Regions from separate parts of the Homo sapiens genome. Here region 2 is reported to be linked to region 1. Evidence: microRNA targets listed by miRTarBase, many of them from high-throughput screens and not tested one by one. Region 1 holds a microRNA gene; the other region holds the end of a gene's coding sequence.
The links. The annotated mature microRNA hsa-miR-6739-5p reads UGGGAAAGAGAAAGAACAAGUA and lies in region 1 at 3,293-3,314, shown strand. An mRNA with a match to its seed (bases 2 to 7 or 8) in the 3' UTR can be bound and repressed. Matches are read on the target gene's strand: a 7mer-m8 pairs with bases 2 to 8, a 7mer-A1 pairs with bases 2 to 7 and ends in A, and an 8mer does both.

Region 2: miRTarBase lists FBXL19 as a target of hsa-miR-6739-5p. Seed matches in the 3' UTR shown: 7mer-m8 at 1,412-1,418.

Annotation. Positions count from the first base shown.
Region 1 is chr1:201,860,086-201,867,204 of GRCh38, forward strand. It overlaps MIR6739 (microRNA 6739), which reads left to right and starts at 3,288; the gene lies at 3,288-3,362. It overlaps IPO9 (importin 9), which reads left to right. Exons shown (of 24, transcript NM_018085.5): 14 at 3,363-3,522; 15 at 6,648-6,874.
Region 2 is chr16:30,945,979-30,953,081 of GRCh38, forward strand. It overlaps FBXL19 (F-box and leucine rich repeat protein 19), which reads left to right. Exons shown (of 11, transcript NM_001382779.1): 10 at 752-970; 11 at 1,074-2,805. The coding sequence ends at 1,252. ORAI3 (ORAI calcium release-activated calcium modulator 3) reads left to right here and starts at 3,090. Exons shown (of 2, transcript NM_152288.3): 1 at 3,090-3,539. The coding sequence starts at 3,312. RefSeq lists silencers at 2,516-2,765, 3,136-3,395, 3,436-3,485 and enhancers at 3,409-3,927, 4,216-4,445, 4,446-4,963, 7,023-7,103.

The sequences.
Region 1 (7,119 bases):
CATCCTTGGAGCCAGATCACCATCCGAAAACACTGCCTTTGCTTTCTCTCTCAGTACTTAAATCATGGAACCTTTGGTATTGTTTGCTCCATTTTCGGTCCATTTACTTCCTCTCCATAGGATAGTTCTGGGAGTAGCTTATGTCATTTGAAAATGTTCTGCTCTGTGATTTTAAATAGGTAATCTATTATCGGGTGTCTCAGTCCATCACTTCCATTCTCTGAATCACAAATTAAAATGGTTGTACATCCAGAGCTCAGATGCGTTGGGAATATCCTGTTTCACTCTGTACTTATCATATGCTGCATTGTTGAATATGTTTTCTTACTCCTACTAGTAAGGTCTCTGAGAGTAGAAATCATGTCTAATCTTTGTATCCTACAAGTGCCTTGAGTAGGCATCCCATAGTTACACATTGAATGATTTCTGAAGCCCATCAACACATTTCTTATAGAGTTTACCCTAGCAAAGATTTTTCAAAAACTTTGGAAATTTTAGAATATTTGTTATTTAGTCTGGAAAAAGGCTCAATATATATCATTTGTTAATCCTACCTGTAGCTAAAACCTTTTCTACACCAACCATTCTGAAACTTTTTGGTTACAAATTATCAATAATTTAAAAGACATTTTTATGTGGCTTTAATTTATTAATATTTAACATACTAAAGATTAAAACTGAGTTGTTTTTAAAATAAAAGAAATGGAAACATGTTTTCCCCTGGCTGTCAGAGCCATGATATCACATACCATATAACCTCTGGAAAACTCCACTGTATACTTGTGAAAGAATGAAAGTGAGGCCGGGCATGGTGGCTTATGCCTGTAACCCCAGCACTTTGGGAGGCTGAGGTGGGCGGATCATGAGGTCAGGAGTTCGAGACCAGCCTGGCTAACATGGCCTAACCCCATCTCTACTAAAAATACAAAAATTAGCTGGGCGTGGTGGCACGCGTCTGTAATCCCAGCTACTCAGGAGGCTGAGGTAGAGGAATTGCTTGAACCCAGGAGGCGGAGGTTGCAGTGAGCCGAGATTGTGCCAGTGCGCTCCAGCCTGGGCAACAGAGCGAGACTCTGTCTCAAAAAAAAGAAGGAATGAAAGTGAAAAAAATAATGTTTCTGTATTACTGTGAAAATAGTTTTAACTTTAGGGAATTTCTGGACCATCCTTTGGGAACTGCTTCTGTACATTATCAGTTTCTCACTTACAGTGGTTGGACTTATGATTTTTCATCTTTACAGTGATGCCAAAGCAATATGCATTTAGTAGAAATTATACTTCAAGTACCCTTACAACCATTCTGTTTTCACTTACAGTATAGTATTCAATAAATTATATGAGATATTCAACACTTTATTATAAAATAGGCTTTGTGTTACGTGAGTTTGCCCAACTTTACGCTAATGTAAGTGTTCTGAGCATGTTTAAGGTAGGCCCGGCTAAGCTGTGATGTTCAGTATTAAATTTAAATGCATTTTTAACTTACAGTATTTTCAACTTACGATGTGTTTATCAGGAAGTAACCCCATCATAAGCAGAGGAGCATCTGTATTGCGTAATTTGACTGGCACAGTTTATTAGGTTCTGTTCAGTGTTTTCCGTCAACAAGATGTTTATTGTGTGAGTAAACAAGTTAAGCCCTGTGACAAGCTGAATAAGAATAGTCTCTCCTCAGCAGCTTATAGTAAACAAGGGTAGTAATCCTTACATTAGTGGCTAGACTATCAAACGAAATATATAACATGTAAGAACACTAAAGACAGAATTACTGTGGCATAGAGATAGTTAGAATTGCTTCAGCCTAAGAGATGAATTAGGTAATGCAAGGAGGTGAATATGTTGGCTTGCAATATGAACAAGGCAGAGAGCTGGGAGAGTAAGATGTAAGTTGCTAAGGAGGGATGTGTACTTGAGTTTGGAAACCATAAAGGGAAATCATAGGTAATGCTAGAGTCACTGATCTTAGGGAGCCTTGAATAACGTGATGACTAAGGTAATCTTTATTTGGTGGACTATGGAATTAATTGACAGATTTTAAATAGAAGAATGACATGATCAGAGCTATAATTTATGTTTTAAGAGTGGTCCAAGGCTGCACGCGGTGGCTCATGCCTGTAATCTCAGCACTTTGGGAGGCCAAGCCGAGTGGATTGCTTGAGTTCAGGAGTTCAAGACCAGCCTGGCCAACATGGTGAAACCCCCTCTCTACTAAAAATACAAAAATTAGCCAGGCGTGGTGGTACGCACCTGTAATCCCAGCTGCTCGGGAGGCTGAGGCAGGAGAATCGCTCGAACCCGGGAAGCAGCGGTTACAGTGAGCTGAGATTGTGCCACTACACTCCAGCCTGGGCAACAGAGCAAGACTCCATCTCAAAAAAAAAGAGTGGTCCAAAAGTGGGAATAAACTAGCAATGGAGATGGCAACTTAGAAGATTAAGTGGGCGGGTACCATGGCTCACACCTGTAATCCCAGCACTTTTGGAGGCCAAGGCAGGCAGATCACCTAAGGTCAGGAGTTTGAGACCAGCCTGACCAACATGGAGAAAGCCCATCTCTACTAAAAATACAAAATTAGCTGGGCGTGGTGGTGCATGCCTGTAATCCCAGCTACTGGGGAGGCTGAGGCAGGAGAATCACTTGAACCAGGGAGGTGGAGGTTGTGGTGAGCCGAGATCGCACTGTTGCACTCCAGCCTGGGCAACAAGAATGAAACTTCATCTCAAAAAAAAAAAAAAAAAGATTAACTAGTAGTACAGGTAAGGAATAATGAGAGCTGGGGGTGAGGACTGGGGTGGTAAAGTCTTTTTAGTCTAATAATATTCAAGATCTACTTTGCTCAGAAGAGACAAGGGAAAACTGGGAAATTGATTTTGTACCACAGGTCACACATTTGCTTTCATCATACAAGGTTATGCTTTTTCTCTCAAATGAGTTGTACATATTATGTAGCATCTATTTACTTCTAAAAAATTGAGGAATGGAGGGCCGGATGCGGTGGCTCATGCCTGTAATCCCAGCACTTTGGGAGGCCGAGGCAGACAGATCACTTGAGGTCCAGAGTTTGAGACCAGCCTGGCCAACATGGCAAAACGCCATCTCTACTAAAAATACAAAAAATTAGCCGGGCATGGTGGCAGGCGCCTGTGATCCCAACTACTCAGGAGGCTGAGGCAGGACAGTTGCTTGAACCCGGGGGACGGAGGTTGCAGTGAGCCGAGATCACGCCATCGCACTCCATCCTGGGTGACAGAGTGAGACTCCATCTCAAAAAAAAAAAATTGAGGAATGAATGTGGGAAAGAGAAAGAACAAGTAAAAGGAATTTTCATTTTCCAGCCCCTAATTGTTCTGTCTTTCTCCCAGTGTCTCCTTTCCTCTTGGGCCGGGCACTTTGGGCTGCCAGTCGGTTCACTGTTGCTATGTCCCCTGAACTGATCCAGCAGTTCCTACAGGCAACAGTTAGTGGTCTTCACGAGACACAGCCCCCATCAGTTCGAATTTCTGCAGTGAGAGCCATCTGGGGGTGAGTATGCTACCCTAGCGTGATAATTAAGGGAAAGTTGCTCAGGTTAGATATAACAAATCACAGTTTTCCAGTGTATTATGTTGCTTGGAAATCCCTGCTAATGATATCCTTCAGGGTGAATGTTGGAAGGACAGGGAAAGAAACCATGCTAGAGACATGGCTTTTGTGAGTCCAGAAGATGTCCTGTTCCTTTCTGCTCCTCTTCCTCTTTAAATTCGCTCCAGTTCTGGAATCATCTAGGCAACTCCCTTTCTCTCAATGGTGAAGAACCTGAGGTTTGGAGAGAAAAATGTTTTGCACAGGGTTGCACAATTGATGAATGATAGAAGCAGGATTAGAGTCCACATCATTTTGTTGGTTGATTATATTAGAAACCAAATCTGGGATAATGTGACCTAGAAACACTGCTTATTTTTTCCCAGTTTTACCTATCTTTTTTAAGGCTAGTGTTACTAATGGATCAAAAGTCATTTATTTATATTCCTACGCAGACTAGAAGGACCATTGTTGTTTTAAGGAATATCTTAGGCTCAAACTTAAACATCTCAACTGAATCCTATAACTACCAACACAAAATTTATTTTCCATGTGCCTGCCCTGTCTTATCTTTTGAGGCAGAGGAGTATCTTTTGAGATGCCGTGTGTTATATGTCATTAGAAAGCATTCAAGAACTGCCTGTTTTAATTAAATGGTTAATGTTATGACCATAAACACCGTCCCATCTTTTTCTGCTTCAATCTAGGTGAAGCAGATCTTTGGCTCTAAAATAATTAGAAGTATCATCTTAAGAGGCAAACTAAGTATAGCTTTTTCAGAAAGCTCTAACACCATTTTAAATGTCTGAGAAGAGAGAGCCCTAAGCTGCTTAAGGCATGAATGTTATTTTAAGGGTTTTTCTGAGTTTGTACCTGTGGTCACTGCCTGTTTAGCTTCTGACCTTAGTGAAACTTGATTTCATTGGAGAATTATCCACTTTGTGTTGTGATTTTATGGAAATGTTTGCAGCTGCAAGCTGTGAGAGGAGTTTGGTATGAATGTGAAAGTACTTTGGGTAAAATAAGCCCATTACTTTCCAGAGTGTTTTAGGTAGACAGCAGTACCTATCAGGCATACTTACCAACATTGATTCTCTCTGGGGGAGATTAGAGTACAAAGAACTTTCATTCTCTGTTATATATATAAAATATTTTGTTTGTTTGTTTGTTTCAACAAGTTTATATTACTTTTATAATCAGAAGAACTGTGAAGAAAACTTTTATTTTTAATGTTCATATCTCTTGGACCACATGGGTAGTGGTTTAATAGTTTTCTTGAGAGATGTAACAGATATCTCTGTAGGATGACAAAAGCTGTGGATATGTGGGCCAGAGAAATGGACACTCATATATGTTTACAAAATTTTATATTCATTGTCAAACACTGGATTCCTTGAAGCCTATCTGTGGATCCCGATTAAGAACTGTCCTATGAATGGATCATTAGCTATCTTTCTTTCAGTCAAGAGTTTCCCTTTGGTCATTTCCTATTTAGTTTACCAGCCAATTGCAGACTGGCTTATGTCCGTGTCACACTATTGGAACTATTTTTCTTTTTTTTTTTTTTTTTTCTTTTCTGAGACGGAGTCTTGCTGTCTGTCGCCCAGGCTGGAGTGCAGTGGCGCGATCTCGGCTCACCACAACCTCTGCCTCCTGGGTTCAAGCAATTCTCCTGCTTCAGCCTCCCCAGCAGCTGGGATTACAGGCATGTGCCACCACACCCAGCTAATTTTGTATTTTTAGTAGAGACAGGGTTTTTCCATGTTGGTCAGGCTGGTTTCAAACTCCTGACCTCGGGTGATCCGCTCGCCCCCACCTCCCAAAGTGCTGGGATTACAGACATGAGCCACCGCGCCCGGCCTGCAGCTGTCTTTTCTAATGTCACTAGTAACCTTTTAATGATCAGCATTCCACCGTTGCTTTTCTTTTTTTCTTTAGCCCCAGTTTTAATTTATTCCTTCATGTCATAGTTTATGTATCATTGCAAACTCCCTTAAATAATCTCTGAAACAAGATACTGATTGACAAATAATTATACTTGTTTCACATTTTTCAACTCAAATTTATGTCAGACTGTATTCGCCTCATTTCAATCAACAAATATTTACTGAATGTTGCTTATCATGTCCAATATGATACAGTTGTTAAAAATACATTGTCTAGGACCAGACACGGTGGCTCACACCTGTGATCCCAGCACTTTGTGGGGCCAAGGCAAGTGGATCACCTGAGGTCAGGAGTTCGCTCCATTTCCCACTTCTATTCTAAGGGTTTATAGTTACTTTGCCCCTCTAATGAACTTGAAACTGTACCGTATGGTAGATTACAGAGTTTGCATCATCTATCTACATCATGCTGGATCTTAAATGCCATGCTGAAAGAGGTTGGACTTTATTTTGGAAGTCGGTGTTTCTTTAACTTGTGTTACTCCTAACACCTAATCTTCTCTTTACCCTGAAGTCTCCAGGGGAAACTGATGTCCCACGAAAATATTATATATATATCCTGTGGCTTCCTATACTGCCTGACATAATATGACTTTCTTCTGAAGTACCTCTGTCTCAAGTTCGAAGAGAACAACTGGGCCACCTGCCTTGGCCCCCCAAAGTGCTGGGATCACAGGTGTGAGCCACCGTGCCTGGTCCTAGACAATGTATTTTTAACAATTGTATCATATTGGACATGATAAGCAACATTCAGTAAATATTTGTTGATTGAAAAGAGGCTAATACAGTAAAACTATAGAGGGAACTTTAAATCCTACAGCTAATAGGCTGATTTTGAAAGTGAAACATAAAATGTTTATATAAATTAAGCTTGTTTCAGGATGCAAAAAAAAAAAACCTCAAGAAAAAAAGCAGAAGTTTTTAAAGAAAATAGCAAAAGTCAAAGAAATAAATTACAGAACATAGAAATGGTGGTGTTGATGTTTATATAATACATCCAGAAAGAAGTAGAAACTTAAACCTAACTTTAGAATTAGCTTTATAAAGCTACACATACAAATGCTATAATATGTGAGATTGATTGGGAAAACCAGGAATTGAATTTTTTTTAATAATTCTTGCTTATCTATCTCTCTCTAGTTATTGTGACCAACTGAAAGTCTCAGAGAGTACCCACGTGCTCCAGCCCTTCCTCCCCAGCATCCTTGATGGCTTAATTCACCTAGCAGCCCAGTTCAGCTCAGAGGTCCTCAACCTGGTGATGGAGACCCTGTGCATCGTTTGTACAGTAGACCCCGAATTCACAGCAAGCATGGAAAGCAAAATCTGCCCCTTCACCATCGCCATTTTCCTAAAGTACAGTAATGGTATGCTGCCAGGGAGGATGTATTATGAGGGGCACCAAAGAAAAGGTGGTGGCTGGTGAATTTAAATGAAAGATTCCCTAGGTCTGGTCTTAGCTATGAAGCTATGGTTTTAACATCGTAAGCAAAGAATCTGGCTTTCAATTAGCAAAAAATAGAATTGTGCTGTAAATGTAGCAGCATTAAAAAATAGAGTACCTATTTCTGTAACACTTACTCTCTAGTAAGGACTTAGGGATAAAGATAAT
Region 2 (7,103 bases), not on the chromosome of region 1:
TTTTTGCATTGCTATAAAGAAATACCTTCGGCTGGGTAATTTATAAAGAAAAGAGGTTGAATTGGCTCAGGATTCTGCAAGCTGTACAGGAAGTATCGTGCCTGCGTCTGCTCAGCTTCTGGGGAAGCCTCACGTAGCTTTTACTCTTGATGGAACGTGAAGGAATCGGCATGTCACATGGCAAGACAGCAAGAGAGAGGAGGGGAGGTCACAGACTCTTTTATTTATTTATTTATTTATTTTGAGATGGAGTCTCGCTCTGTTGCCCAGGCTGGGGTGCAGTGGCACAATCGTGGCTCACTGCAACCTCCACCTCTCGGGTTCAAGTGATTCTCCTGCCTCAGCCTCCTGAGTAGCCGGGATTACAGGCGCCTGCCACCATACCCGGCTAATTTTTGTATGTTGAGTAGAGACAAGGTTTTGCCATGTTAGGCCAGGCTAGTCTCGAACTCCTGACCTCAAGTGAGCCGCCTGCCTCGGCTTCCCAAAGTGCTAGGATTACAGGCATGAGCCACCACGCCTGGCAGAATATTGTAGTCTCAAATACAATAATCATGGAAGGCCTCCGAGGAGGTGATGTGAGGAGTGGACAGATGAGGTCAGGCCATGAGGGTGTTTTTGAGAAGAGCAAGCCACAGAGTGCACCAGGTCACTCACTTATGTGGGAAGCAGGTGGAGGGCAGATGGTCTGGATACCTGGGCGCAGGGATGGGAGTGGCCAGGAGTGCTGACCTCTCATCTGGCTGCCCAGGGCAAACAGAGAGCCGTGGTCGGCTGCAGGGGGTGGCAGAACTGCGTCTGGCAGGTTTGGAGCTGACAGATGCCTCCCTGCGTCTCCTGCTGCGTCACGCACCCCAGCTGAGCGCCCTGGACCTGAGCCACTGCGCCCACGTCGGGGACCCCAGTGTTCACCTCCTCACGGCCCCCACGTCCCCACTCCGCGAGACCCTGGTGCACCTCAATCTTGCTGGTAAGCACGGTCCCCCATCCGTCCTGCCAGCCTGTGGATCCCCACGGCCAGTGCCAACCCCTTGCTCACCTGCCTGGTCTCAGCTCCACTGCCCCATCCCCAGGTTGCCACCGCCTAACGGACCACTGCCTCCCGCTGTTCCGCCGCTGCCCTCGTCTACGCCGCCTAGACCTGCGCTCCTGCCGCCAGCTCTCACCCGAAGCTTGTGCCCGGCTGGCAGCTGCCGGGCCCCCTGGCCCCTTCCGCTGCCCTGAGGAGAAGCTGCTTCTCAAGGACAGCTAGTTGGGCGCCCCCCACCCTCCCCCGGACTCGACAGGAGCCTGGACCTCCGGCTTCATTTCACCCCTGCTGGGAGGCCAGGTTCCCACCTCACCACCCTGGGATTCCTGAGTGTCAGTGACTTGGGATTCCCACCCAGGGACTCAAGCCAGCCACCCCCTTCTTTCCCCCCTGCACTGATATCTCTGGGGGTTTCTCCTTCCTATGTCCTGCCCCTGCTACCTGCTTCATTGTCCATCCCCTGGGGGAGTGGGTCAGAGGTACTGGAGGGTGCTGAGCCGAAGGGACGGTGGGAGGGGGGTTATGGTGCAAGTGTTGGGGGGGAGAATGGGGAAAGGACACACACAGGATATGGGAGCCAGGGGCTGGGGGAGGTGGAAGGGGCGGGGGGCGGGGCAGACAGCAGACCACCAAGGGTTCAGGGAACAAAGACCAGTTACTTGGAGTGGGGGGTGGGGGTGGGGCCACAAAAGGAAAACCGGAGGAGCAATTGGGGATCCAGGTGTCAGAGGTAGGGGAACCAGGGGCAAGCTGGGGCTGAGCTGGAGGTGGGGATGAGAGCAGGTGTGGGGACAGCAATACCCCCTTGGGGGTCACCTCTCTGCTTCCCCCCTCCCCAGGCTTCAGTTCCTTCCCCCTGACCCTGACTCCTTGAACGTCACTGAAAACGGCAGCTATTGCAAGGAGTGGGGGCCGCGGGCAGCCGCTCTTCAGCTCGCGGCCCAGGGGAGTGGCGAGGGGCGCCCCAACCCCCTGCCCGCCTCTCCGCACAATACTTGAACATTCATCTGTACTGAAGTGTTACTTGAACCGGGGGAATCTCGGACCTGGGGGAGCCGGGGTGTGAGGGGACTGGACCAGCTTGGACTGAGACCTGAGACCGGGCCGGTGGGCGCCCATTTGGGACTGCGCCACCCCCAGGCTTGTTCTTGTTTTACTGTATTGAGCGGCGGCACCCGCCGGACCCGCATTATGGCTGGGGGCGCCAGCCCAAGAATGGGGACCATGGGACTCCTCCAGCCTGGCTCTTCCCACTCTTTCATCGTCATGGAAACTTGTATCCCATTTGCCCAGGGAACTGCCACTCCTGGTTGCCATGGAAATAGCAGCCAACGGACACCTCCCGATGCCAGTGCTAAGGCTGGAAATGGCCCCCTCTTAGTTGCCATGGGAACCTAGTAACAGACTCTGCTGGCCCTCCTTCCCTGCCCCTTCCTCGAGCGCGGGGTGGGGCTTCGGGACCCCGGGGATGAGCCGGGCCAGGTCCCGCCCCTCCGCGCAGGCCTCCGGGGGGCCGGGGCTTACCATGTAGGGGAGGGGAGATCTATCCACATACCTCAGGTAACAGGGAGGTGCGCGGGTGGGGGGAGGGCTGGGCGGACCAAAGGCCGGAGGGGTGGGGCCTGGGGATAGCGAGAGGCTTGAGAATGGGGCCGCTTGGGGGAGGGAAGAGGCAGCCCGGCGAGGGGCAAGCGGGGGACCCAGCCGGGCTGGGCCCCTGGGCCCCGGGTCTGTACAATACGGTTTGCTATAAAACTCAAAATCTTCCAGCCGGGGCTGCGGAGTTCGTGTGTGTATCTGCGGGGTCCCTACCTACAGATGAGTGGGCTCACCTCTCCTGGACTCATTTTGGGAGGGATTTGGAAGTGTGGACACCTGGGGTGTCCAGCTGTACCTTGGAGGGGGCTGGGGTTGGCGTGCACCTCGGTGGGGTCCGGGCGCTTGGATAACGTTCTTGGTGGGTAGGGGTCGCGGGGAATCTCTGCGGGCCCGGGACTGCGGGGACTTGGTCCCCGGCTCCACCCCATCATGTGGCTAGCCCCGGCTCCGCCTCTGTCCCAGTTCCTGTTTTGGCCTCCGCTGTCCCGCTCCGGCTCCTGGGGCTCCCCGCAGACGCTGCTTTTCTTGCTCCACTGGGGGTGCCTCTTCCTGGGCGCCCGCCGCCTGCATCCTGCTCGTCCTGTCTGGGAATGGGGCCGCCCCCGGGCTTGGGCCGGCCCGGCTGGGGCCCCCGAGGCGCTTCCGCCCCGTAGTGACCGCCTGGTGCCGCCCCCCCCCCAGGATGAAGGGCGGCGAGGGGGACGCGGGCGAGCAGGCCCCGCTGAACCCTGAGGGCGAGAGCCCTGCAGGCTCGGCCACGTACCGGGAGTTCGTGCACCGCGGCTACCTGGACCTCATGGGGGCCAGTCAGCACTCGCTGCGGGCGCTCAGCTGGCGCCGCCTCTACCTCAGCCGGGCCAAGCTCAAAGCTTCCAGCCGCACGTCTGCCTTGCTCTCGGGCTTCGCCATGGTGAGGGGCCGGGAGGGGTCACACCCGGTGGGGCAGAGCAAGTGGGGGGCACAGGTCGGGGGGGGGGCGAAGTAAACAGGTCCCAAGGGAGACAGGTTAAAGGGGGCTTTCGTCAAAGGGGGAAGGAACAAGGTCCCGCGGGACTGAGCAAGTCCCTTCTTACGGATGTGTGTGTACAGGGGACCCCAGGAGACGGGGCCACCGGAGGACACGAAAGTCCTAAAGGTGTCGTAGTGGGAGTGGGGTGAACAAATCGCTGGTGGGGTTGACTGCAACAGTGAGGCAGAGTGGTCCAGATGGAGCCTGTACCTGGCAGAAGTGGTTCCTAAGTCCCAGTGCCAGCTTCAAAGGCAGGTCAGCTGGGTGGGGGCTGCATCAACAGGTGGGGGGCTCGAGATGGATTAGCTGGGTGGAAGGGTCACCCAGCTGAAGGTGGGCCCGTCCCAGGGAAGGTGGCCACTCTCCAGCGGGCCCAAGGGGTGCTAGTGTCAACCAGGAAAACTGACAAGAGATCATGCCCGGGAGGGAACCGCTGGGGAAGGAGGCTGATGAGGAAACTGATAAGCGAGTCTCAAGCTGATAAACCCCAGGTGCAGGAGGACGGTGTTGGCTAACGGTCTGCCCCAGCAGTGGCCTCACAGGAAGTGGGATGGAGGGAGGTCCCAGGGTGAGGATCAGCAGACACAGTCCTGGCTCCTCCCTGCTTGTGGCCAGCTGTGTGACCCTGGACAGGCCTCCACCCCGCTTGCAAGCCAGTGGGAAACTGAGATCATGGAGGGTGCGCCCTCTGTAGCCAGCCAAGTAACCGCCCCAGGGTGAGCCAGGCATGTCAGAGCAGGTCACGTACCAAGGATGGCTCAGACTAGCCTGCTAATTGGACAGGTGTGGAAAGTAAAAGCCTTGCCTCTGGGCAGGAGCGAATGAACTGGGACCCAGGGTTGCTGCTCTGTTAGTCTGGGGTTGCCCCACCATCACCCCAGGAAAAAGGAGAAAGTGAGCTGCAGGAGGTACTTTGGGGAACGCACTCCTGTGGGGGTGGATATCAGAGGCGGTTGGGGTGGGGACCATGGCGCTAGGGGATCTGGGCTAGTCCCTGCCCTGTCTGTGCCACAACCTCCATATTTGAACAATGACAGGGAAACTCTCTAACCCTAAGGGTCATCATAAGCCTATGGTCTTCTATGTGGGGTCCCAGAATCCACAGACCAGCTTACCTTTCATGATGGGGGCATCACCTAGGGACAGGATGTTGGCTCCCCTTCATCTGCACAGCCTGCAGAGGGAAGGGAGCAGCCACCCAAGCTGAGGGAGGTCAACCCCATGGTCCAGCCTGTTCCCAAGGAGACAATCCCTCCACGGCAGAATATGCAGGTGCAGGTTGCTGGGGTGACAGCTTAAGGGCCCGAGCCTTCTCTGCAGGAGGAAGGGGCTGGAGGTTTAGGTTCCGGGGGCAGGACTGGCCGCAGTCCTAGCAGGGGTGACCGAGGCTGGGCCAGGCTCTGGGAGAAACCAGGACTAAGCCTGGCCCAGATCCCTGTCTGTGGAAAACACCTCCTGACACCTGCCATGGCCCAATTTCCCAAAATACTCAGCCCTGTTTTCCTACCTCCACCCGCCAGCCTCTACACCTACCTTCTTCTTTCCCCAGGCCCAGAGCAATCGAATGGACCCTACAAGAACCAGGGATGGGGAGAGAGTGGGCTTCTGAAACTCAGGTGGCCTAAGTTAGAATAGCATTATACAAATTGTATCCAGCTGTCACTAAGCACCAGGCACTGCCCTCAGTGCCTTTATATACATCATCTGTTAGCCTACAAAGTGGGTACTGCTACTCTGGCCATTTTACAGATGAGGAAACTGAGGATCAGAGATGTTAAGACACCTGCCCAAGGTCCCACAGCAAGTAAGTGGCAGGATTTGAGCCTAAGCCGTCTGGTTCCAGACTCCAAATTTATAAATTCCTAGAATAGGGTCATCAACTCAAATGTTTGCAAAGGGCCAGGCAGGTAATATGGATGCCAAATTGGCTGGGTAGGGACTAGCAAGCAAGAGACCCCATGACATTGGGGGTGATGGCTCACACCTTTCATCCCAGCACTTTGGGAGGCCAAGGCAGGAGGATCGCTTGAGCCTAGGAGCCCAGGAGTTCGAGTCCAGCCAGCCTGGGCAACATAGCAAGACCTGGCATCTACCAAAAAAAAAAAAAGAGAGACCCCATGACCTTTCCAAGGGGAGCAGCCATGACTGATTTGAGCTGATAGTTGCCATGCAGGAACGCAGGCCAAGTGTGGCTAGTTCTTCCAAGTTTTCAAGGGGATCTGGAAATAGGGATATAAGAAATCTCTTCAGTTTTACAAGTTGGCAGCATCTTCCATTTTTTAAGAAACACACTGTGTGAGCCAAGCAAAACACGTCTGCAAGCTGGCAGTGGTCCACAGTGTGCCGATTTGTAAACTCTGTCCTCAGACTTTAGCATTCACTATAGCAAGAACAGCAAACACATACCTAGTGCTTACTCTGTGCCTGGCACTGTTCTTTTTCTTTTTCTTCCTTTTCCTTTTCCTTTCCTTTCCTCTTTCTTTTTCTTTCTTTCTTTTCTTTCTTATCTTTCTTTTTTTTTTTTTTTTGAGACAGAGTCCCACACTGTCACCCAGGCTGGAGTGCAGTGGTGCGATCTCGGCTCACTGCAACCTCTGCCTCCTGGGTTCAAGCAATTCTCCTGCCTTAGCCTCCCAAGCTCCTGAGTAGCCGGGATTACAGGCGCACACCACCACGCCCGGCTAATTTTTATATTTTTAGTAGAGACAGGGTTTCACCATGTTGGCCAGGCTGGTCTTGAACTCCTGACCTCAGGTGATCCGCCCAACTCGGCCTCCCAAAGTGTTGGGATGAAAGGCGTGAGCCACCACTCCCAGCCCATTTCATGTATATTTCATTTAATGTTTATACCAACCCTATAAGGCAGGGAGGTGCTGTTATCAATCTCTATTTCCAGATAGGAAATTGAGGCACACAGAGAACTGACTTGCTCAAGATTACACAGCTAGAGCAGAGAATGATCCCAGGCAGCCCAGCTCCAGAATCTGCTGTTTGATCCCTATGCAGTAAACCTGTTAGAAGCATGTCATCCAGCCCTTTTTTTTATTTTTATTTTTAATTTTTTTTTGAGACAGAGTCTTGCTCTGTTGCCCAGGCTGGAGTGCAGTCACATGATCTCGGCTCACTCAAACTTCTGCCTCCTGGGTTCAAGCAGTTCTCCTGCCTCAGCCTCTCAAGTAGCAGGGATTACAGGCATGTGCCACGATGCCCGGCTAATTTTTGTACTTTTAGTAGAGACGGGGTTTCGCCATGTTGGCCAGGTTGGTCTCAAACTCCTGACCTCAGGTGATCCACACACTTTGGCCTCCCAAAGTGCTGGGATTATAGGCATGAACCGCCGCGCCCGGCCATCCAGCCCTCTTGATAGGGAGGTGGGGAAACCAGAACAGAACAGAGCCTTTGCAAAGCTGTCCATTCGTTTACTCAACAGAGACTGAATGTCTCTGGTTTCTGCCAGGCACAGTT